7 linked regions of the Homo sapiens genome follow. The protein of the gene in region 1 interacts with the protein of each later gene in a pairwise test. Each region holds a gene or a part of one and is shown in the gene's direction. Other genes may lie near its edges. The genes, in order: XRN1, LEPR, CTSB, EXOSC10, HEATR1, STAM2 and ANGPTL6.

Region 1 (3,500 bases):
TAGTTGGATGTGGTGGCACACACCTGTAATCCCAGCTACTTGGGAGGCTGAGGCACGAGAATCACTTGAACCTGGGAGACAGAGGTTGCAGTGAGCCAAGACTGAGCCACTGCACTCCAGCCTGGCTGATAGAGTGAGACTCTGTCTCATAAAAAAGAAAAACAATTATTTAAAACCTGACAGGGAGGATACCATGATCATGAAGGTAGTTTTCCCAGGGCGAGGTTTATCCATTGCACTCTGGATGTGCTGATGCCCTGCGATTTCGCCAAATGTGGGAAACTGAACTGCGTGACTTATGGTAGTGGAGGACTGCATTCACACTTTCCCCTGGCAATTTTTTTTTAATTAAAAAAAAATTGTTATTTTAAAACAATGGACTAGTTTTTAAAATGTGGATATTTATAGTGTTTAATGATATGAGACATTAACTAGATCAGTGATTTTTCTCTAGAAATGATTTACATATAAAATACAATAGTCTAAGTTAATAGTAATGGCAAAAACCACAATTACTTTTGTGCCAGCCTAATAGCACAATATCTAGTAAATGTTATGTGCTTAATAAATGAATAATAGAATCAATTAGAATATGATAGTACCCTGCAGAGCATCTCTGATAATCTCCAAAGAATGTCTTGTGTTAACTTGAAAAGTAAACCTCTTGTGAAAAATTCTTCAGCCTCTCTGTAATTATTGGATTCTGCTGAGTTTCTTTTTTTTTTTTTTGGAGACAGCATGTCACTCTGTCACTCAGGCTGGAGTGCAGTGGCGCGATCTTGGCTCACTGCAACCTCTACCTCCTGGGTTCGCTTGAATTCCCCTGCCTCAGCCTCCTGAGTACCTGGGATTAGAGGTGCGCGCCACCACCCAGCTAATTTTTGTATTTTTAGTAGAGACGGGGTTTCACTATGTTGGTAATGCTGGTCTCGAACTCCTGACCTCGTGATCTGCCCACCTTGGCCTCCCTTAAGTCCTGGGATTACAGGCGTGAGCCACCGTGCCCGGCCAAGATTCTGTTGAGCTTCTTACTCTCCTTGCTGTACTGGTTCTATTTAGGTTCAAACTTAATGACTCTTGCTCCAGGAGGGGCAACTGTCCTTGTTTTCTCTAGTGTAGTCCTTCTCGCTGCTTAGCTCTTCCTCACTGGAACTTGGCAGCAGTCAGTCTGCATTCCACTGGTTTTTGTGTGTGTGTGTGTGTCTTTTTTTTTCCCCCCCTAAGAAAACGGGCTCTGCAACTTTTTGGGAACCTGTACACACAAAACTTACCTGTCAGTAATCCCTGGCTCCCCCACCACAATTCAGTACTTAAACTTCACCAGTCTTCCAGCCATATGCAGCTAACTTTAGAGACACTGTGCAGGAATAGCCCAGACACAGGAAGTTGGTAGAGGCCATAAGTTGGATGAAAGAAAGGAAATGGGGATAAGGGAGTAGGAAGAACTAAAGAGAGTCATTGGCAGTAGACAGGAAATCAGAGAATAGAGGAGAGAAAGGATTGAGATCACAAGGGAGGAAAAACAGATGGGCAGGATATGAAGGATGTTATAACATGGAAGAACTATAGAAAAGCAAATGGGTGCATGGAAGAGAAATGACATCTCATTTTGAAATGTATCTTGCCATTCATTTTATGTTGATTTACAATTTACAGGGCCAGGAAAATTCTCTGTGTTGGACTGCTTTAGACAAAAATGAAGGCGAAATGATAACTTCTAAGGGTAAGTATGAAGTATGTGTTTTGATATGTTACTACTTTGACAGGATAATTGTTATACCTTTTATTTATTATTACTAATTTTGGGTGGAACAGATTTCTGTGATAGCATATAAGCATCAACTTGGATATGCATTTATCAAATCATTAGGTGGAAAAACAGGCTATTCATAATTGTCAGTCACTATCTTTCTGACTTTTTTCCCCAGATAATTTAGAAGATGAGACTGAAGATGATGACCTATTTGAAACTGAGTTTAGACAATATAAAAGAACATATTACATGACGAAGATGGGGGTTGACGTAGTATCTGAGTACGTTTTTGCCAATGCTTTTATTTTAAAATAGAAAAAATTAGATTTTGCAGTTATTCAGAAAATATGATTTTGATGAAGTAGTGGGAGAAAAAGGATTTTTTGGTTTCATGAATTATTGTGTATGTTTCAACTAGTCTGGTTTTGGAGAAGATGGTATTAATTCTGACTTGTATTATATTCCTGTGATAAAAATTGCTGAAGAGAAAATGATCCTTATGTATAAGGATTTTTGTTACAAAGTTGTTTATAATAGTAAAAAAATTAGAAATAATCTAAATGTCCAATAAGAAGGTTCATCATAATTGGCCACTGCTTCTTCATTACAGTCACCATCTCTGTCACCTCTTCCATCTCCGGAATCTGCAGAACTGCTAAACTGGTACTTGCAGAAAGTTCATAACAATTTGGAAGGATGCTTATAGTACATTATTAAGTACAAATTGTAAAGGCAAGACATGAAATCATACATACAGTATGCTCTCATTAACCTTAAAAAAACCTAGATATAGATAAAAGACTGAAACACTAAAAATGTAAAAGTGATGGCTATAAGATGATAAAAATGCTGTTCTTCATTGTCCAGATTTTCACTCCTGAGGAAATAGTTCTTTTATAATAAAAAAGCAATATTTTTCATATTAAAAAACTACCTCCCAGAAATATGTAGTTATGTAATTTCTAAGTGAATATTTTTGCCTTTAGCCCAGGGCTCTGTTTTGTTTTGTTTTGATGATTTGAAGACTTATTTTACCCAAACTTAGAAGATGGCATTTGGTTTTTGACAAAGAAAGGATTAGAAGGAATATTGTTCACATACAGCACTTCTGAAAGCATTCTAGCTTCTGTGACCAAATTTTAAGATCTTCCTGATTTGCTGCTTTGCTTCTCTCAGATATCATCCCATGTAAAGAAGATTCCCATCCCTTTCTCCCGTCTCACCCCCACTATTTAAGAGAGTGGTAGTGTCACTATGGAAAGCTTCATTGGGTAAATCTTCAACCTTTGGACCAAGGGAGTGGTACATTAACTGAGTAAATATGAATAACAGACTTATCTATTTTGATAGTTGGTTTAGGAAAACTGTCATGTGACAGGATGTAATTTTTAAAAATATTTTGGAGTTTTTAGGATTATAATTTTTAGCCATAAATAGCTAATTCATTGATTAAATAAATCATCTGAGGTAAAATGTTGTATCAGCAGATACCGTGCTCTAAAGACACGGGCCTGTCTTCAGAAAATATGTTATAATGAAAATATTCTATTTTCAGTGACTTTCTGGCTGATCAAGCTGCATGTTATGTTCAGGCAATACAGTGGATTTTGCACTATTACTATCATGGAGTTCAGTCCTGGAGCTGGTGAGAGAATAAAAACAAAAATAAAGTTTTGTCTTTTTATAATGATTCATTCTACTAGAGTCTTATTTAGGAAGCACTTCCTTTTATTTCTACTTATGGTAA
Region 2 (3,500 bases), on another chromosome or scaffold:
GATTGTCTCAGCTACATCCCTGCTAGTAGACAGTATACTTCCTGGGTCTTCGTATGAGGTTCAGGTGAGGGGCAAGAGACTGGATGGCCCAGGAATCTGGAGTGACTGGAGTACTCCTCGTGTCTTTACCACACAAGGTAGGTTATGTAATAGCCACTTCTACTGGGAGGGAAATATATTTCCTGAACTTGCCTTTGTATAGTATAAGCATCTTACATTTTGAGGCCTTAAAATGAAAGGAGGAACACAGTATCAACTTCCTTGTTTAAACTTTGAACAGGCCAATTTGTGAATTAAAATTCTGTCAGAGCCTCTAGGCTTGTGTGTTTCTATTGCAGTATATTGTAGGATCACTTTTCCTATTAAAAAGAAAAAATTAATATAACAGCTCCAAATTAACAAACTCAGAAAGCCATTTGTATTGATAATTCCTTAATTTACATTTTAAAACCAAGCATATTTATTTGACATAAAATTCAAATATTAACATTTTACTTTATATTATATAATAAATGAATTATTTTTACTCCAGATGCTTGCTTTTGAGAGTTTTCAGTGCCAATGTTCATATTTTAAAGGTTATTTTTAGCATCGGAACATCTACAGTTCATTCACAGCTTCTTCATGCAGCTGATGCGCAAAGTTTTGCATAGAGGCTCCAGAGGCTTGGAATGGTCCTAGACCTGTTGCATGCAAAGTTGGGACTATAGAAAGACAATAGTCCTTTGGCTGGTTGTCCGATCTGTCAAAAGGGCAAAATTTTTCTTGTTCAGACTTACTGAGATTGATTATGGCCTGTACAGAGATAACAGGTACCATGCAAATATCAATCCATTTAACAAGTTTACTTGTTGATTGCTTACTATTTTAAAAGCATTGATTCGTCAAAAGGCAAGTAGCAATAGTAGTTTAAGACATTGACTTCGGAGTCCAACAGAAGTTTATAGGAGTTCTGGCTCCACCACTTATTTGGAAAGTTTCTTAACCTTTCTATGCCTTAATTTCCTTATCTGTAAAATAGGGATGTTTTACATGGATATGAAATATCCATATAAAATTAAATAATGAAATGAAATAATTAACATTGGTCATGTGAAGAAAACCATTATTGTTTTCTTATTCTGCAAATTAAAAATTGCATAGTATGTCATATGCAGATAAAATGTGTATCTATATTATTAAAATTTTGCAAATTAAATATTCAATATCTCATATCAATTTCAATAAATTTATCCAGTGTAAATTTCACAAATTGTCAGGTTTTTATTAACTTAGTTTTCTTATTTTAAGCTAATATTTTAGCATCTAATCATGTAAAAATACTATGACTTTAATCTTATTTCTCAGTTAAGCCTTACTATATGTATTTGATTTCAAAGTGAAATGCTTTGAATTTTCTTGTCATCTTTAAAATGAAAAACTTCAGCTTAATCCATGAAAACTCAATTATATTTTTTATTTTTAAATAAGAATTATTCTGAGACTTTTGAGGCAGTTGAGTAAGGAGGTTGTGGCGCATACTGAAGGTAGGTTAAGATAGGTTAATGTACTAGGTACTTGTCCACAGTAAGTAATGTACAAGTGAAGCTTGAGTGCCACCTCGGCTAGGATTATACTCAGTCACGCTCATAAATCTAATGGTCTGGCTCCTGTGCAGTAATTTTATGCTACTAAGTTTTTTCCTGTTTCTATTTGATTATGGACATACAAAACACAAATGTTTTGTATGAATTGTAAATATATAGACATTGACGTTTACCATGCTATTACAGAATAAAGAAAACTTAATAAAAACCAATTAAAGTATTTTTGTTTCTGTTTTTAAGGGTAATCCCAAGATATGTGTGAAAACAAATTTTCATAGTCTATCAACAGAAAATGGTTTACCTTAACTTTACAACTGAAATGTACTGACGTTTTTGCAGTGCACTGTGGTGGAAATAATTTCTTCCTATGTAAACCATCATTTACTTGTATCTCGCATGTCTTTGAAAATGATAGGCAAATGAAATTTACAACAACAGAGGACTTTAAAAATAGTATAGAATCATGTGTAGGCATTAAAAAAATCATGTTTTAGGAAAATATCGCTTCCCTTTACCCTCATCCATAGGATATTGGCATTAAATAACTCAAAATGATAGTACAAACCAGTATTTCCCATTTTCTCTGCTTTGTATATTGCTGCATTATCATTCATACGACATTCCTATTTTTTAATTTATATCTCGTATCTTTACCTACTTACTTGAAATTTTTATGTATCCAAACAAGACAATAGCGGCAATCATTTTTACTTCAGGATTTGGCTTCATAGTGATTTGCTTTAAGAACTTGTCCTAGTTTCACTGATTCCCAAAGCAGGGTCTGTTGGAAAATATGTCATTGTTGAATTAAGCTATATTTTGTTTTAGTCACTTTCCTGCCTATCAGTTAGCAAGTGACAATTACTGGCTAAAACATATTTTATGATGAATAAGCCTCTGTGTTTAGAAGATAGTAAAGACATTCATGGAAGCTCAACTCACTTTAGAATGAGAGCACTCGGGACACTAGATAACTGTACACAAACAGGTAATTTCAGCATTATCCAGTTTTTAAATTACACTCATTTTATTTTTGGCAGTGTAACTCTGGAATGTGTTGTGAATATTTTTCGATGTGGTACAAATTACTTACAGAATGTTTTGTCTTCATCTGATATCCTTTCTTCCCTCATTACAGATGTCATATACTTTCCACCTAAAATTCTGACAAGTGTTGGGTCTAATGTTTCTTTTCACTGCATCTATAAGAAGGAAAACAAGATTGTTCCCTCAAAAGAGATTGTTTGGTGGATGAATTTAGCTGAGAAAATTCCTCAAAGCCAGTATGATGTTGTGAGTGATCATGTTAGCAAAGTTACTTTTTTCAATCTGAATGAAACCAAACCTCGAGGAAAGTTTACCTATGATGCAGTGTACTGCTGCAATGAACATGAATGCCATCATCGCTATGCTGAATTATATGTGATTGGTAAGAAAACAGAGGTTTTGTTCATTTTGTTCCACAACTTGAATTTTCATTATGGACCCTCCTTATATTAGAGTCCTGTTAAAGATGTAAGAAAAAATTTTTTTCATTGAATTTTTTGGAGTTTTTGCTTTATATTAATATTTTAATATGTTTCAAATAGATGTCAATATCAATATCTCATGTGAAACTGATGGGTACTTAACTAAAATGACTTGCAGATGGTCAACCAGTACAATCCAGTCACTTGCGGAAAGCACTTTGCAATTGAGGTATCATAGGTACGTATTATTTTTGCTGTTTTGTTTTTCTGTGGGCACAGTGAGATAAAAATTTTCTTTAGAAATATTACAACAGTAGTCTTACAGATTATTTGCTTCCTGAAAGAGGAAAGTATAATATAATGAATCAGGAAATTTTTGAGGGATTATATAAATTGGTGATTCTTGAAAAATATTCACACCTGAGATTAAAAAATTGTAATTTGT
Region 3 (3,500 bases), on another chromosome or scaffold:
GAGCCTTGGGGTCCCGGAACTCTAGGATAGAGGAGGGGGAGTGATGCCCTCTTGCCAGGAGAAGCAGCACACTCTCCACTTTCTGCCTGTTCCACCCTGAACTCAGCCTCAGCCCTTCCAAACTGGAAGGGACCAAAGCCCTCCTTTTACAAGGGAGTGGCGTGTCCTGGAGTCTTGAGGTATCCTGGCCTCTTCCGGGGCCTCGTGCTCATTGCTCCGTTCTCCCATTTCTGAGCTTCCAGCCCCAGCCCTGTCCTTAGTTCTTCAGGGGAGCCTTCCTTGAGCTCCCCTGGCAGGGCAAGTCCCCTTAGATGCAGTCTTCCCCTGGAGGCCACCAGAAATCAGTGACTGGCTGACCGTGGCGTGCCACGAGGCACGGTCACTGCCCTCCCCAACCCCGAGCTCGGTTCATTTTCCAGGATACAATTCCTACAGCGTCTCCAATAGCGAGAAGGACATCATGGCCGAGATCTACAAAAACGGCCCCGTGGAGGGAGCTTTCTCTGTGTATTCGGACTTCCTGCTCTACAAGTCAGGTGCGTGCTGATGGCTGATGGCAATAGAGGGTGGGGGTCGGGAGGGGAGCCTGGGTGCCAGGATGGTTCATGTTGACCAATAGGGCTGGATTGGGCAGGCAGGTGAGGGGCTGGGGAAGAGGGCTGTGTGGGGCCTTCCATATAGGCTCACTCCTCTGTGGACCAGCCTGGCACCTGACTGTCTTTGTCCAGGTGTTGTGCCAACACACACAATTCCAGAGGCCTCTCCCAGAGCCTCTGGGCTAGTTCCTTCCCATCCATTAGCGTCCAGCTCATACATGTTCTCTGTGGGAACGCCCCCCTCCCTGGTGGCTGGCCACGCCTGCCCTCGCCTTCCTGGCTTTGCATTGCTTTACCAGCATGTTTCTGTTATAATGGCAGGCCGTTCGTGTTTGCACTGGCTGACACATTTTCTTCATCTTTCTCTTTGCAAAGGCCTAGATCGTGCCTCACACCAGTGGATGAACACACAGGGAGGACCTTGCCCTGGGTAGTGCCATAGGGACTCCAACCAAGGAATCTGGACAGTCCCCATCCCCAAGTCCTGTCTTAGAAATCCCTTGCTCCAGATGAACAGTCTTTGCTGACTGCATCTATCCCATTAATATTTTGCTAGATTGGAAACTTGTAAAACAACAGTTTGACAAAGGAAGATGATTCTGGCAAGAAAAAGTTTCTGTGAAGATGGCACTTCTTAGCATAGTCCTCGCCCTTATTATTAAAAGATGCATTTCCACTTTGACAGTGATTTCCCCACCCGAGAGCCTGGTTGGGCAGCCCTGAGCCCCTTAGCCAGTATCTTTCCCATCAGCTAGCATTAGCTGCCACCAGTCCTCCCTTCTCCTCCCTCACCTCTTCAGGGTGTACCTGGAGCAGCTATTAAAACTCTTTAAGCCGTGTAACGCTTTTGACAAACCCTTACTTACATGGAATCCCAGTATAAAGAACAGATGAATCAGTCATCTAGCATTAAATGTTTTATCAATTAGAATGTATTAGAAATTCTATTTTTAAAGCCAACAAGCACATTTTGTAGGAATCTATTTCAATATTTACTCAACAACTTTGAGTGTGTTGGGCCTTCAAAAATATATTTAATTCCCCAGTATTGTGGGACCCCCCCTGGAGCCTCCTGGTGGAGCAGCAGGTTCCCTCTGGAAGCTGTTTCTCCTTCCCGGAGCATGACCAGCTGAGTGTGGGGGGTGCTGTGGGGCGTGGGACAGTGGCCCGGTCTCGGTCTCAGCCAGTTCTTCCCTTTTCAGGAGTGTACCAACACGTCACCGGAGAGATGATGGGTGGCCATGCCATCCGCATCCTGGGCTGGGGAGTGGAGAATGGCACACCCTACTGGCTGGTTGCCAACTCCTGGAACACTGACTGGGGTGACAATGGTGAGTGGCTGCCCCCTTCCTGCCAAGAACAGTGAATTGTGAGCCACACCCCGTGGCCATCTCGGCTTTCTCTGTTCTACCCACCGCACAGCCTTAAACCCTGGACCTACGGCCAGGCTGTGAGCTCCTCCTAAGTGCCAGGCAGTCAGGAGTTCCCTTTTGCTGTGAGGGCAGACTCTGAGCAGCTTCAGAGCCAACGCCTGCAACAGTTCCCACAGCATCGCGCCAGATCCTGTGATGGGAAGGGTGACCGGGCAGGGGGCTTGCCCGTGGAGGTGTGCCCCACGGCTCCAGAAGCCTTGTGGTGTTGAGGACTGTGCTAGTGGGCCAACAGCAGGAGTGGCCAGGGATGAGTGACTTAAGGTCTTTTAAGGATGAGTCTGACTATATTGGTTGACCCTTGTCACACTTTAAAAGCACCTTACTTTTTATTCCCAGGCTTCTTTAAAATACTCAGAGGACAGGATCACTGTGGAATCGAATCAGAAGTGGTGGCTGGAATTCCACGCACCGATCAGTACTGGGAAAAGATCTAATCTGCCGTGGGCCTGTCGTGCCAGTCCTGGGGGCGAGATCGGGGTAGAAATGCATTTTATTCTTTAAGTTCACGTAAGATACAAGTTTCAGACAGGGTCTGAAGGACTGGATTGGCCAAACATCAGACCTGTCTTCCAAGGAGACCAAGTCCTGGCTACATCCCAGCCTGTGGTTACAGTGCAGACAGGCCATGTGAGCCACCGCTGCCAGCACAGAGCGTCCTTCCCCCTGTAGACTAGTGCCGTAGGGAGTACCTGCTGCCCCAGCTGACTGTGGCCCCCTCCGTGATCCATCCATCTCCAGGGAGCAAGACAGAGACGCAGGAATGGAAAGCGGAGTTCCTAACAGGATGAAAGTTCCCCCATCAGTTCCCCCAGTACCTCCAAGCAAGTAGCTTTCCACATTTGTCACAGAAATCAGAGGAGAGACGGTGTTGGGAGCCCTTTGGAGAACGCCAGTCTCCCAGGCCCCCTGCATCTATCGAGTTTGCAATGTCACAACCTCTCTGATCTTGTGCTCAGCATGATTCTTTAATAGAAGTTTTATTTTTTCGTGCACTCTGCTAATCATGTGGGTGAGCCAGTGGAACAGCGGGAGACCTGTGCTAGTTTTACAGATTGCCTCCTTATGACGCGGCTCAAAAGGAAACCAAGTGGTCAGGAGTTGTTTCTGACCCACTGATCTCTACTACCACAAGGAAAATAGTTTAGGAGAAACCAGCTTTTACTGTTTTTGAAAAATTACAGCTTCACCCTGTCAAGTTAACAAGGAATGCCTGTGCCAATAAAAGTTTTCTCCAACTTGAAGTCTACTCTGATGGGATCTCAGATCCTTTGTCACTGCCTATAGACTTGTAGCTGCTGTCTCTCTTTGTCCCTGCAGAGAATCACGTCCTGGAACTGCATGTTCTTGCGACTCTTGGGACTTCATCTTAACTTCTCGCTGCCCCAGCCATGTTTTCAACCATGGCATCCCTCCCCCAATTAGTTCCCTGTCATCCTCGTCAACCTTCTCTGTAAGTGCCTGGTAAGCTTGC
Region 4 (3,500 bases), on another chromosome or scaffold:
CGTCTGCTTTAAAGTGCAAAATAGATGAGGACTCCCTGCAGTTTCATTCTAAATAGTGTACTTCTATATTTAATGTATGCAGTCCAGGGACTTCTTAGTTATTTTAGTGGCCACATTACACTGTTAAATCATATTAGAATTTTCAGCCCAATTCAGAGCTTTAAAGAGTCAATCGAGTATTGGGCATGGGTAATTACTGTCCTACCTGCCTTTGAGCAAATAATGCATTAATTACTTGGCATGACATACTAATGACCTTTATTGATCAACTTTGTAAAATTTTTATTTTTTTATTGACAAAAATTGTATAGGCGATCATTTACATGGTTATGTCTCAATAAACCTATATTATAAGTCAAAAATGCATTTAATACACCTCACTTACCAAATAGCTTAACTGAACCTGCTTTAAATGTGCTCAGAAAACTTCCATTAGTCTACAGTTGGGCAAAATCTTACACAAAGCCTATTTTTATAATACAGTGTTGAATATTCATCTCATGTAATTCAAGTAGCATTGAATACACTTCTGAAAGTGAAAAACAGGTTGTGGCCGGGCACAGTAGCTCATGCCTGTAATCCTAGCATTTTGGGAGGCCAAGGCAGGTGGATCACTTGAGGTCAAGAGTTCAAGACCAGCTTGGTCAACATAGTGAAACCCCATCTCTACTAAAAAATACAAAAATTAGCTGGGCGTGGTGGCGTGCACCTGTAGTCCCAGATACTCGGGAGGCTGAGGCATGAGAATTGCTTGAACCCAGGAGGCGAAGACTGCAGCAAGCTGAGATTGGACCACTGCACTCCAGCCTGGGCAACAGAGTGAGACTCCCTCTCAAAAAAAAAAAAAAGAAAAACAGGGCCAGGCACAGTGGCTTACGCCTGTAATCCTAGCACTTTGGGAGGTCGAGGCAGGCAGCTCACAAGGTCAAGAGATCGAGACCATCCTGGCCAACCTGGTGAAACCCTGTCTCTACTAAAAATACAAAAATTAGCTGGGCGTGGTGGTGCATGCCTGTAGTCCCAATTACTTGGGAGGCTGAGGCAGGAGAATCGCTTGAACCCGGGAGGCAGGTTGCAATTAGCTGAGATCACGCCATTACACTTCAGCCTGGCAACAGAGCAAGACTCTGTCTCAAAAAAGAAAAAAGAAAAACAGGTGGTAAGTGTACTTGAAATATGGATTCTACTAAATGCAAATCACTTTCACATCATTGTAAACTCAAAAACTTACAAGTCAAACTGTCATACATTGGGGACCATCTATATATTTATTACATACAACTTGATGTTTTGATACATACATTGATCTGTTCTTATATATGTATATTTTCTTACACAAATGTCTCTGAATACCAATCTCTTTAAAATGTTAGGTAATTAGGTGGGGCACGGTGGCTCACGCCTATAATCCCAGCATTTTGGGAGGCTCAGGTGGGCGGATCACTTGAGGTCAGGAGTTCGAGACCAGCCTGGCCAACCGGGTGAAACCCCATCTCTACTAAAAATAAAAAATTAGCCAGGTATGGTGGTGCACACCTGTAATCCCAGCTACTCGGGAGGCTGAGGCAGGAGAATCGCTTGAACCCTGGAGGCAGAGGTTGCAGTGAGCCCAATTCAGAACTGTAAAGAGTTGCAGTGAGGCAAGATTGCGCCACTGCACTCCAGCCTGGGTGACAGAGTGATACTCCATGTTAAATAAATAAAATGTTAGGTAGTTAACTCTGCTAACCTCAAAAGGAAAAATGCTTAACCAGTACCTCTTCTACTCTTAGGGTATTTTACTGGATGAAGCCTCAGGTGTAAACAAGAATCAACAGCCTGTCCTCCCTGCCGGCTTGCAGGTCCCCAAAACGGTAGTGTCCAGCTGGAACCGTAAGGTGAGGGCTTTTCAGATTAACTAGAGCTCTTGATGTCAGCTTCATAACAGAGATTTTGCTCATTCTAACATGCATTTCTGTTCTAATTTATTAGAGAACTGGCCACTGTCTCCTTTAGTTTGTTCTCATAAACATACACAAACTAATTACACCCTCTTCTTCTCTTTCTGGAGACCTCTACATGCACATACATTCTTAAATGAATGAATGACCTTTGCGATGTTCTTGTCTCCTCAGAAGTCATAAATTGGAATTTACTTTTCTAATTCATCAAGTTGCTGTGTTATAAAGTATTTGTATTCATTGATCATAGGCAGCAGAATATGGCAAAAAAGCAAAATCTGAAACTTTCCGGCTGCTTCATGCAAAAAATATCATCCGACCTCAGCTCAAGTTTCGAGAGAAGATTGACAATTCCAACACACCATTTCTTCCTAAAATCTTCATCAAACCCAATGCTCAGAAACCTCTCCCTCAAGGTAAATAGTGCATACTTTGCCTGTGTTTGAGTCTCACTTTATTTGATGCAAAAACCAGGAAGGGTGTACAGGTCTCTCTTCTTTGTTCAAAGGGAGCCCACCCTCCTTTGTTCAAAGGGAGCCCAGTTCAGCTATTCCAGAGGCTGAAGTGGGAGGATCACTTGAGCCCAGGAGGTCAAGGCTACAGTGAGCTGTGCTTGTGCCACCACACTTCAGCCTGGGGGACAGAACATGACCCTGTCTCAAAAAAAAAAGCCAAAAAACAAAGGGAACCAGTTTACCCCTGTGTAATTAGAAAAGACATGAATGTGCTAATGATGTTTTTGTCACTGCTGGGATCCCCAGCTCTCTCTAAGGAAAGGCGGGAACGCCCACAGGATCGTCCTGAGGACTTGGACGTCCCCCCTGCACTGGCTGATTTCATCCATCAGCAGAGAACCCAGCAGGTTGAGCAAGACATGTAAGTGTTGGCCTGTGTCTGACTTTCTGCCGTGAGTACTTACCTTTTTGCCACATTTTCACTTTTGTGGAGTATATACATGAAAACAATCTGAGGAGTAGTGATTTCCTCCTTACACCCCAACCTGGGCCTTAGCAATAAAACCTGCTGTTTGTGTTCACAAAGGGCCTACACAGCATTGCCTCATGTAAACCTCACTGCAGTCCTGAGAAGTAGCAGTTGCTCTTATTCCCATTTTATAGATGTAAAACACGAAGGCTGGGCGCGGTGGCTTACGCCTGTAATCCCAGCACTTTGGGAGGCTGAGACCGGTGGATCACCTGAGGTCAGGAGTTCGAGACCAGCCTGGCCAACATGGTGAAACCCCATCTCTACTGAAAATACAAAAATTAGCCAGGCGAGGTGGTGTGTGCCTGTAATCCCAGCTACTCGGGAGGCTGAGGCAGGAGAATCGCTTGAACTTGGGAGGTGGAGGTTGCAGTGAGCCAAGATGGCGTCACTGCACTCCAGCCTGAGTGATAGAGTAAGACTCCATCTCAAAAAAAAAAAAAAAAAAAGATGTAAAAGCAAAATTAGAGATGCAGGCTTCTTGTAGAGTTGGAACTTCTTTGAGACAGGGTCTTGCTCTGTCGCCCAGACTGGAGTGTGGTGGCATGAACACAGCTCACTACAGCCTTTACCTCC
Region 5 (3,500 bases), on another chromosome or scaffold:
TAGTTTTTAAAAATACACACCGCTGAACTCTAGGAATCATTTGAAAATGGCACATCTCTTTCCTGTGTTATTGGTAGAATCACATGGGTCCGTTTATGAGCATCTTGCAAGAGCATATTGGGGTGATGAAGAAGGAAGAGCTCACCTCCCATCAGTCTCAGCTAACCGCCTTTTTCCTGGAAGCCCTGGACTTCCGAGCCCAGCACTCTGAGGTAAGCTCAGGTTCACTCCTCCAAATCCTAAAGCTGTTATCCACCTATTGAAGAGTCCGAGAACAATCTAGCCGTGTAACAGTGGTACTTGCCAAAATAATTTACAGTCAGGTATCAGCACTCTAATAAATGGGCTCTTCTGTTTTCAGAACGATCTGGAGGAAGTTGGAAAAACGGAAAATTGTATCATTGACTGTCTAGTAGCCATGGTTGTCAAACTTTCCGAGGTCACATTCAGGCCCCTGTTCTTCAAGGTGACGCTTTCTTCCTCTTCCTCTCTTTTGTGCTCAGATTTAAGTGACAAGATGTCGAAGAAACTAATACTGTCTTATCCTTTCAGCTGTTTGATTGGGCTAAAACAGAAGATGCCCCAAAGGACAGGTTGTTGACATTTTACAACTTGGCAGATTGCATTGCTGAAAAGCTGAAAGGGCTTTTTACTCTGTTTGCCGGCCACTTAGTGAAGCCTTTTGCTGACACCTTGAACCAGGTGAACATCTCCAAAACAGGTGGGTGGTCGCTTCAGTTCAGCTGTCACCCTTGCCCTGTGTGCCTTATACAAGGTACCAGTAAGACACAACCTAGTGCTTGGAAGCAAGATTTTAGAGGTTCTTAAGTCCTAAGCTAAGGAGGGTGAATTTTTTACTTCATTGTTGTCAGACAGTGAAGTGTTGTTTTAGCATCATGAGCGAATGTTATAAGTCACCTCACTTGGGAGAAAGAATAAAGTAAATGGCCGTTACTGTCAGTTACTGGAAGTAACTTTAAAACGCAAAAATTAAGATTAGTTTATTCTCTAATGCTAATACGTGACCCACTTGACAGTTGAGGGAATTTAACTTGCCAGAGTGAGTGTTAGAATCTTAACTCTAAAAGAAGGAATCATTCTTCGAGAGACCATCCATTGTGTTCTGCCTTCGTCCTGATTATGATTTCTAGATCATTTTAGACTCTTCTGATTTAGTTATTTTAATAGTGATTTCAATGTAAACATTGGAGATTAAATGGTTAAGTTCAGTGTTTTTTCATTTTTACTCTTCCCACGTCTACAGATGAAGCATTTTTTGACTCTGAAAATGACCCTGAAAAGTGCTGCTTGCTGTTGCAGTTTATTTTGAACTGTTTATACAAAATCTTCCTTTTTGATACCCAGCATTTTATAAGTAAAGAGAGAGCAGAAGCCTTGATGATGCCTCTGGTGGATCAGGTAACCAAACAGAATCATCTTTCGTTGCTGAGGAAGCCATCACTGTTCGAGCTTGGCAGGTTTTAGATCTGCTCAAATGACAGCTTGCTAGGATTTTTCTTTGTAAGGTTGTTTTTTCTGGTCTTTTTAATGAAATGTTTTATTTGAAAATTGTTTTTTCAAAGATATAACTTCATTGTGGAATTTGAGTTTTGTTTTGTTGTTTTGAGACAGGGTCTTGCTCTGTCACCCAGGCTGGAGTGCAGTGGTGCAATCTCGGCTCGCTGCAACCTCCACCTCCCGGTTTCAAGCAATTCTTGTGCCTCAGCCTCCCGAATAGCTGGGATCACAGGCGCCCGCCTCCACACCTGGCTAATTTTTGTATTTTTAGTAGGGATGAGGTTTTGCCATGTTGGCCAGGCTGGTCTCGAACTCCTGACCTCAAGTGATCCACCCACCTTGGCCTCCCAAACTGCTGGGATTACAGGCGTGAGCCACCATGCCTGGCCCTGAGTTATTTTTTATTTTTTATTTTTTAAACTGCTCAAAAGACAGACATGATATAAGCTGTCATGGTTAATGTATTCATTTGTTTTAACTGGGCCTCACTGAGAACGCGTCAGAGCATGGCTGTCCTCTGGAGCAAAGAGCTCCTCTGAGATGTTCTGCTGGAGAGAAAGGGGCGATGATAAAGGGTATGAGATTCCATTTGAGTTCTAGAAGGCAATACATTTGCCCTAGAGAGTATTAGAATAATGCCTGGTTTTTGAACCTGCTAATATCATGAAAGATAGTAAAATATTTGTATGTTGGATATTTTTTCAAACAGAAGAAAGAAATGAGACTTGTTGTTCAAAGTCTTTGTCTTACTCTTCCTAGCTGGAAAACAGGCTTGGGGGAGAAGAGAAATTCCAGGAACGGGTGACAAAGCACCTGATACCATGCATCGCACAGTTTTCGGTGGCCATGGCGGATGACTCTCTTTGGAAACCACTGAACTACCAGATTCTGCTAAAGACGAGAGACTCCTCGCCTAAGGTTAGGAACTGCGTGACAAGTACTGAAACTGCATCTTTTCACTGCATAGCCTAAACAGCCTGCAGGTGGTCACAGATGTAGGCCCCCTAGTAAACTGGCAGGGAAGAACATTGCTATTTGTCATCCAGTACTAGAGGTCCGGTCTTTTGTATTAGGCAGAAATTTGTGCCTAAGAAAATTTTGTTTTTTACTTACAGGCTATTTGTAAAGAATAGCAATGCCCTATCCCCACCCCAATGGTGCGTTGGGCAGAAGTACTAAAATACTTTCTAAATACTTTTAAATAACAAAGATTTGAAGTAATTCCTTCTTTTTTAAGTGCCATTGAAATGTCATTGTGCTCCAGAGAGAAATGCATTGAATTTATCCACACTATAGTCTTTTGAGTTAGAGCAATACATTCTGTTGTTTATAGATACTAGGCTTATGATCTTGTTGAGTAAGTGGTGGCAGTGGAAATAAAACATGGGTAGGTTGAGTGGAAGTCAAAATTTGACACCCAAGTGTTACGAATTTCAAACTGTTTTAGCAATGAGTCACCATTTCTCAAACTAATGATTGTATTAGAACTTTACTGGCTATAACAGACCAAAGCAGAATTTTATTAATAGGATTTATTAGTTCAAATTCTTTATTAGGATATGCTAACAATGAGACTATTATGATGAACCCCCACATTTTAAACCATAGGTTTTTATACAAGTAGCAGTATCAAATTTATTGTAATATTTTACTTTGCACAAATCAAGGAAATCCTGATTGAATCTAGGTAGTTACAAATGGTTTTTTAATAATTCACTTTGTACTGTCCAGATATTCTTTAATTAAAATATCCAAAATTAGAAGACCAGTAGGGCTTTTGTTTCAAAAGCTAACAATACCCAACTACTGCTTGCTTTCCTTATTATAGACAAGGCATGTGAGGAACACCTAGACGTTTTTAAAGCCCCAAAACTAGGATATTGTGACACAGAATGTTTTTTATTCAGTGCTGAGATGGGAGTTTATCCCAAGCGACTGTCCTGGCCCCTCATACAATTATAGTGGTGACCAGTCAGGGGCTG
Region 6 (3,500 bases), on another chromosome or scaffold:
GAGATACTTATGACAAACTCGCTCTGTCACCCAGGCTGGAGTGCAGTAGCATGATCGACAGAGTGAGTTTGTCAAAAGTATCTCATACTTATAAACAGTATGAGATAGGAGGATTAAAATATTATTTTAAAGAAACCACTGTTTCCCCCTAAAATGTCATAAGAGCACTGAAGAACTTGAAATATTTTTTTCAGAGTTTCTCACACACTTTAAAAGTCTAACTTTTTTGTGTGTAAGCATTTAGCTTGCCAGCATATTTCTTTTTGGCTCCTTAAATTGCGGTTGTGTTTGCAGTATTGTCACTTTTGCTCTCACTGTTATGTTGAATAATAATTAGCATATAATTGTCTACAGAAGCAAGAGCAATCTGGAAGGAACAAAAATGTTTTCTGTGATTAACAGTGAAGACCTTGTAAATGCAGATGTGTGATAAAGCATTTAGTCAGTCCCCCAAACAGTCATGCCAACTGTGAAGGAATGTCCCACAAAACATTTCCATTCCCTGAGGAAAAACATTTTCTTTCCTACATGTATCTCTGGTATTTAGAATTGTCACTAATAACCTTTTCAAGTGATTTTGGCTATTCTCTAATGAAGATATGGTCCATTTGTTTTTCTTCCTGCAATGTGGTGTGCAGAGATGCTGCATATCCTTTTTATGGGATTGCGTGTGAATTTGAACCATGAGACATTCCTAATAATTTGTTGTGAGATATACCAAGCATGGATGATAAGTGTGTTTTTAGTGGTGTGTTGTTTTTTTAAAGAGGTGATTCAAGTACCGTTGCTAAGCTGTCAACATACCAAGCTGTTGAAAAAATTGACCATTTCTTTCAGAAGTAATTCTCAGCCTGTGGAATAATAGCAGGTGAAGACTTCATAGAAGGCGACAGATTGATAGGGAGGCTATTGAAGCAGTTTTTCTGAAGCCTGCATTTTGAGTTAGTTTATAGTGCTAATAGATTCTATATAACTGTGAGAGTTTGGTAGTAAACCAGTAGGGATTGTTTTCTCTCCTAAAAATTTGCACACTACTTCATTGTCTACCAACTTTTTACATATTGGAAAATAGAAATTGCAAATACATACATGTATGGAAACATATTCAGATTGGGAAAAACAATGGACATTAGTTTTTAAAAAGTTACGTGGAAGCAAGATTTCTATATTTGTTTTTTTAAAGGAAGCAGTCATTCTTTCTACTAAATCCATTTCAAGCTAGTTCTCTGAAAATTTTGCCATTTATCTACAGAAATTTGATTATAAATATGTTCCTTTTTCAAAGAAACTTTATTCTAGAACAAAATAGTCTATATGGTACTTGATCTACATTTAAGTGGAAAAATTAGCAGTATTTGAAAGCTCAGTTTATGTCATTGTCTTAACTTCAGATACAAATAACTGAACAGAAAGTTTTAACCTTTAATATCTCATGTTCTGTTTTTTATTCAGTATTTTCCTTTATGTTAATTCAATTATATACTTCTGAATGGCACCTTACTTTTTGGAAACAAATCTTCTGTTATTTACAAAATAATAATTTTTAAAAAACATTTAAAAAAAATCCAAAGCTGCTCTCGATAATAGTCAACATTTGCATATATATGGAATTTCTTACTTTTTTTCTCCCAAACTCTATTTAATAAACTTATTTTAATGTTTGTGTATTTCATGTATAATTGTGATCTCAATTATAAAAGTTTAATTCAGCATGTCTTTGAGCCAATATAATTACTGCACACCCACTAAATTGGGATCAGCCATTATAAATAATGTAGTTTTAGAATAATAAAACATGACACATATATATATATATAAATATATAGTATATATTGGCACATCGGTGAAAGTTTATATGTGCAGAAGTTTTTTTCTTTCTCAAGTTAAAAATTATTTTTTGCCATATGTAATTTTGTGTTGCAGGCTGTCGAGAGATAAAAATGATTTTAAATCTGTGTACTGATGATTCTTTCGGTGTTAAGAAACACAGGGTTGTGTACTTCCCTTTTTATGGGCTTATGGATTCTATTTATATTAAGACCTGTTTATAATTGTTTTCTGCCAAAGGGAATTGTCTAACTTCAGATTTCTACATTGGGTTCATACTTACTGTTTTATATCAGAAATAAAAAAATAGCTTCTGCTTTTTCATATGAAATCTTGGTACATCAGAAAGAATTCCTGAAAATTTATAATAGAATGAATTTTATTAATGCAGAAAAATACCCCAGGGTGTTAAAATATATGAAGTGTGGGATATATTCTTATAGTTTGTAAAATGTAGTCAACCAATACTGTCTTCTAATTTGGTAATTTATTTATAAAATTACTTAAACATTAGGTAATTATATTTGTTAGGATTTGAAATTATTTGTAGTTAAATTGTCATGCTGTTTGAAATAATTGATACTTGTCTACGTAATACATTTTACTGTATGTTTTGAAGATGGTTATAATTTCACTTTCAAAATTTAAAAAATCAATTTTAAATGTTTTAAAAACATATAGCTTAGGGATTTTTTTTAAAAAGGTTTTCTTAGTAAAAACATAAATTTAAAAGCCCCTGAGTTCTAGGAGAGGGCTTATTGAATTGCTATAAGAAAGCTGGAGTTACTTTGATAAGTAATAAATTATAAATAGCACTGATCTATAATGCTTTATTTCTATCGGAAGGTACTTTTTCTTCTTTCATCATCAGTTTTAGCCAGTTAGTAAATGGGAATACTCAGTTTTAGGGATTTGATTTTTGTTTGGTTTAATTTTCTTTCAAAAATTAAAAGTATATTTCTAAAAGTTTTCCCCAGAGGCCAGATACAGTGGCTCATGCCTATAATCCCAGCACTTTGGGAGCCTGAGATAGGAGTATTGCTTGAGGCTAGGAGTTTGAGACCAACCTGGCAACATGGCAAGACCCTATCTCTACAAAAATTTTAAAACTTAGCCAGGTGTGGTAGTGCACCTGTAGTCCCAGCTAGTCAGTAGGCTGAGGTGGGAGTATTGCTTGAGGCTGCAGTGAGGTGTGATCACGCCACTGCACTCCGGCCTGACAGAATGAGATCCTGTCTCAAAAAGAAAATTCCCCAGAAGAAGAATTCTAATTTTATCAAGCTGAATTAAAGTTTGAGAGTCTTTTTTTTAAAATCTTACTGTGTCAAAAGAGGCATTATGTTGCTTGTGTGATATAGTGAATAGTGTCCCTCCAAATTTCATGTACACCTGGAATGTCACAATGTGACTTAACAGTAGCCACCCCTCACCCCCGCCCTTATCTGTGGTGGATACATTTGCAAGATCCCCAGTGGATGCCTGAAACCGCAGATAGTACTGAACCTTATATATACTGTTTGTTTTCCTATGCATACATATCCCTATGATAAAGTTTATGAATTTGGCACTTAACAGCAGAACTAATAAGATGAAAGAGTTGTAACAATATACTCTAATAAAAGTTATTTAAAATGTATGTATTGTTATCTGTAATTTTGCATTTAATATTTTTG
Region 7 (3,500 bases), on another chromosome or scaffold:
GGGCGGAGCCTGCCGCGGCGCTGGCGCTGCTCGGGGAGCGCGTGCTCAACGCGTCCGCCGAGGCTCAGCGCGCAGCCGCCCGGTTCCACCAGCTGGACGTCAAGTTCCGCGAGCTGGCGCAGCTCGTCACCCAGCAGAGCAGTCTCATCGCCCGCCTGGAGCGCCTGTGCCCGGGAGGCGCGGGCGGGCAGCAGCAGGTAACCTCGCAGCCTCCCCGGAGAGCAGCATCGTCTGTGAAATGGGGGTTTTGCAACCCCACGATCTCTTATCCACAGTTCTGAAATCCGCAAAACCCTGAAAACCGGATTCCTACTCGCCCCTTCTGGTAACTTATTTGGGTCAAAAAGTGACTGGTGGCTATTTATAGCCTTCACTTAACCACTTAATGTGAATAGTCATAGGATCCTATAATTAAACATATCATTATCACGTAAAGACCAAAAACCCCTTTAGGAGTGTTATGTATATTCTATACACACATGCATATACATAACCCTCCCTGTGTCACTGTGTCTAAATCCAGCCGTGTTATTCTGAATTCTGGAACGTGTCCTGGTCTGGGTTTGGGATAAGAGAATGTTGCTCTGTGACAGTCCCTACGTTACAGGGTTGGTGAGAGGAGTCAGTAAGTTAGATACTGTTGGATGTGTTGTTATTATCCCTACTCTACAGAGGAGGCTGGGGCACAGATCAATTAAACCATGAGCACCAAGAGCCGGTATTTAAGCCCAGCTCTGTCTGCACTTTATTTTTTTAATTTTATTTTTGAGATGGAGTCTCGCTCTGTCTCCCAGGCTGGAGTGCAGTGGTGCAATCTTGGCTCACTGCAACCTCCACCTCCCAGGTTCAAGCGATCCTCCTACCTCAACCTTCCGAGTAGCTGGCATTACAGGCGTGAGCCAACACACTCAGTTAATTTTTTTTGTATTTTTAGTAGAGACGGAGGTTTCACCATGTTGGTCAGGCTGGTCTCGAACTCCTGACCTCAGGTGATCCGCCCGCCTCGGCCTCCCAAAGTGCTGGGATTACAGGCACGGGCCATAGCGCCCAGCCTGTCTGCACTTTAAAGCCAAGTTGTTTAGCTTTTGGGGAGGATCATTCCTAGGGCTGGGACACCCCCACTGCCAGATGTCCAGGTCATTTGGGAGCTGGGAGATTTATCCACCATTTCTGCCCCTGAGACCAGGCCTCCTGGCCTGAGGGTTAGTGCAATTACACCTGACTTTCTCCGTCACCCCAGGTCCTGCCGCCACCCCCACTGGTGCCTGTGGTTCCGGTCCGTCTTGTGGGTAGCACCAGTGACACCAGTAGGATGCTGGACCCAGCCCCAGAGCCCCAGAGAGACCAGACCCAGAGACAGCAGGAGCCCATGGCTTCTCCCATGCCTGCAGGTCACCCTGCGGTCCCCACCAAGCCTGTGGGTAAGTCGACATTAGGGCTGAGGAATTGTGGGTAGAGGAAAATTGAGGAGTCAGGATTTTAGTGGCAGATTTCTCTCATTGTGAGAAGACCAGAAGAAATGATACTCCTATTCTGATTAAAAATAAGACCAAACTTCTAAGGTGTGAAAATAGGAGAAACAAGAAATAGAAGAGGAGGGACTCTTACTTTAGTGAGGCGATGTTTGGGACTGCTACTTTGGTAAGAGTTTGAACTGGTTCAGAGTATCATATTCAGGACTTATATTATGGTGAGGAGACCATAAAAAACCAGGGTTTAAGAACCCCAGAGTTGGCCGGGCGCGATGGCTCATGCCTGTAATCCCAGCACTTTGGGAGGCCGAGGCGGGTGGATCACGAGGTCAGGAGATCAAGACCATCCTGGCTAACACGGTGAAACCCCATTTCTACTAAAAATACAAAAAATTAGCTGGGCGTGGTGGCGGGCGCCTGTAGTCCCAGCTGCTCGGGAGGCTGAGGCAGGAGAAAGGCGTGAACCTGGGAGGATGAGGTTGCAGTGAGCCGAGATCGCACCACTGCACTCCAGCCTGAGTGACAGAGCGAGACTCCATCTCAAAAAAAAAAAGAACCCCAGACTTGACATTTCCTTTGATTAGAGACAAGGGACCCAGATTCTTAGGTAAAGAAATGGCTATTGGAGCTCGGATTCTGGTGAGGAAATGGGAGAGGCAGGCCTCTTATTCTGGTGAGGAAATGGGAGAGGCAGGACTCTTTGGTAGAAAAGTGGGAGAGGCAGAACTCTTATTCTGGTGAGAGGACCTGTGAGAATCTTGACTCTTGCTCCAGTAAGGGATTGGTCAGCCCAGGCTGTGCCTCCCCCCTATCCCTGTGCCCACAGGCCCGTGGCAGGATTGTGCAGAGGCCCGCCAGGCAGGCCATGAACAGAGTGGAGTGTATGAACTGCGAGTGGGCCGTCACGTAGTGTCAGTATGGTGTGAGCAGCAACTGGAGGGTGGAGGCTGGACTGTGATCCAGCGGAGGCAAGATGGTTCAGTCAACTTCTTCACTACCTGGCAGCACTATAAGGTGGGCACAGGTGGGCAGAGGCAGGGAAGGGGAGGGAGCCTGTTCTGGCTTCCTGACTTTCCTGCCCTGCCAGGCGGGCTTTGGGCGGCCAGACGGAGAATACTGGCTGGGCCTTGAACCCGTGTATCAGCTGACCAGCCGTGGGGACCATGAGCTGCTGGTTCTCCTGGAGGACTGGGGGGGCCGTGGAGCACGTGCCCACTATGATGGCTTCTCCCTGGAACCCGAGAGCGACCACTACCGCCTGCGGCTTGGCCAGTACCATGGTGATGCTGGAGACTCTCTTTCCTGGCACAATGACAAGCCCTTCAGCACCGTGGATAGGGACCGAGACTCCTATTCTGGTAAGGAGAACTCCTATTCTGGTGAGAGGATAGGGGAGGCGGGACTCCTGTTCTGGTGAGGGAATGAAAGGAGGTAGGGTAGGTAAGACGCCCCTCTGGTAAGTATAAGGATAAGCAAGCTTTTATTCCGTCAAGAGAACAAAGGTCAGGACTTTTATCCTGGTGGGGGGATGGGGAGTCCAGATTCCTTCTCTGATGAGGCAAAAAAAGAATCAAGACTCCTGTTCAAGTAAAGGGCAGAGGGTGAGAGCTAGTACTCTTATTCTAGAAAGGAAGTAGATACTTTTCTTTGATAAAGGAATGAACGGTAGACTCCTAGTTTGCAGAAAAGGTGGGAAAGATGTGACTTGTACTTTGGTAAGGAGATAGGGAAGGAATTAAGGCTATTACTCTGAAGAAAGTTGGGGGGCCAGGGCTCCTATTTTTTTGCTGAGGAGATGGAAGATCAGGGCTTGTATTCAATAAGAATGGGAGGGGCCAGGGGATGCCTGGCAAAAGCCTTGCACTGTGAGGTGCAGGTAGAGGCTTTTATTCTGGTGAGAGGACATGGACTCTCTCTCTCCCCTCAGGTAACTGTGCCCTGTACCAGCGGGGAGGCTGGTGGTACCATGCCTGTGCCCACTCCAACCTCAACGGTGTGTGGCACCACGGCGGCCACTACCGAAGCCGC

What was found.
Region 2: the proteins of XRN1 (region 1) and LEPR interact in a two-hybrid assay, tested with the Homo sapiens proteins (one large-scale study listed by BioGRID).
Region 3: the proteins of XRN1 (region 1) and CTSB interact in a two-hybrid assay, tested with the Homo sapiens proteins (one large-scale study listed by BioGRID).
Region 4: the proteins of XRN1 (region 1) and EXOSC10 interact in a two-hybrid assay, tested with the Homo sapiens proteins (one large-scale study listed by BioGRID).
Region 5: the proteins of XRN1 (region 1) and HEATR1 interact in a two-hybrid assay, tested with the Homo sapiens proteins (one large-scale study listed by BioGRID and IntAct).
Region 6: the proteins of XRN1 (region 1) and STAM2 interact in a two-hybrid assay, tested with the Homo sapiens proteins (one large-scale study listed by BioGRID and IntAct).
Region 7: the proteins of XRN1 (region 1) and ANGPTL6 interact in a two-hybrid assay, tested with the Homo sapiens proteins (one large-scale study listed by BioGRID).

What each region holds. Positions count from the first base shown.
Region 1 is NC_000003.12:142,417,038-142,420,537, reverse strand, and holds part of XRN1 (5'-3' exoribonuclease 1), read left to right. Parts: intron 1-1,656; coding exon 1,657-1,723; intron 1,724-1,928; coding exon 1,929-2,034; coding exon of another isoform or gene 2,035-2,068; exon of another isoform or gene 2,069-2,697; intron 2,698-3,308; coding exon 3,309-3,398; intron 3,399-3,500. UniProt on the Homo sapiens protein: Major 5'-3' exoribonuclease involved in mRNA decay. Required for the 5'-3'-processing of the G4 tetraplex-containing DNA and RNA substrates. The kinetic of hydrolysis is faster for G4 RNA tetraplex than for G4 DNA tetraplex and monomeric RNA tetraplex.
Region 2 is NC_000001.11:65,598,668-65,602,167, forward strand, and holds part of LEPR (leptin receptor isoform 1 precursor), read left to right. Parts: coding exon 1-137; intron 138-2,724; coding exon 2,725-3,015; intron 3,016-3,175; coding exon 3,176-3,293; intron 3,294-3,500. UniProt on the Homo sapiens protein: Receptor for hormone LEP/leptin. On ligand binding, mediates LEP central and peripheral effects through the activation of different signaling pathways such as JAK2/STAT3 and MAPK cascade/FOS.
Region 3 is NC_000008.11:11,844,088-11,847,587, reverse strand, and holds part of CTSB (cathepsin B isoform 1 preproprotein), read left to right. Parts: intron 1-419; coding exon 420-536; intron 537-1,798; coding exon 1,799-1,927; intron 1,928-2,365; coding exon 2,366-2,463; 3' UTR 2,464-3,500. UniProt on the Homo sapiens protein: Thiol protease which is believed to participate in intracellular degradation and turnover of proteins. Cleaves matrix extracellular phosphoglycoprotein MEPE. Involved in the solubilization of cross-linked TG/thyroglobulin in the thyroid follicle lumen.
Region 4 is NC_000001.11:11,089,870-11,093,369, reverse strand, and holds part of EXOSC10 (exosome complex component 10), read left to right. Parts: intron 1-1,772; coding exon 1,773-1,877; intron 1,878-2,190; coding exon 2,191-2,356; intron 2,357-2,701; coding exon 2,702-2,816; intron 2,817-3,500. UniProt on the Homo sapiens protein: Catalytic component of the RNA exosome complex which has 3'->5' exoribonuclease activity and participates in a multitude of cellular RNA processing and degradation events.
Region 5 is NC_000001.11:236,552,517-236,556,016, reverse strand, and holds part of HEATR1 (HEAT repeat-containing protein 1), read left to right. Parts: intron 1-77; coding exon 78-212; intron 213-361; coding exon 362-466; intron 467-552; coding exon 553-721; intron 722-1,264; coding exon 1,265-1,419; intron 1,420-2,277; coding exon 2,278-2,436; intron 2,437-3,035; exon of another isoform or gene 3,036-3,500. UniProt on the Homo sapiens protein: Ribosome biogenesis factor; required for recruitment of Myc to nucleoli. Involved in nucleolar processing of pre-18S ribosomal RNA. Required for optimal pre-ribosomal RNA transcription by RNA polymerase I.
Region 6 is NC_000002.12:152,116,764-152,120,263, reverse strand, and holds the end of STAM2 (signal transducing adapter molecule 2), read left to right. Parts: 3' UTR 1-3,463; downstream 3,464-3,500.
Region 7 is NC_000019.10:10,092,679-10,096,178, reverse strand, and holds part of ANGPTL6 (angiopoietin-related protein 6 precursor), read left to right. Parts: coding exon 1-197; intron 198-1,240; coding exon 1,241-1,421; intron 1,422-2,298; coding exon 2,299-2,486; intron 2,487-2,559; coding exon 2,560-2,830; intron 2,831-2,935; exon of another isoform or gene 2,936-3,399; coding exon 3,400-3,500. UniProt on the Homo sapiens protein: May play a role in the wound healing process. May promote epidermal proliferation, remodeling and regeneration. May promote the chemotactic activity of endothelial cells and induce neovascularization.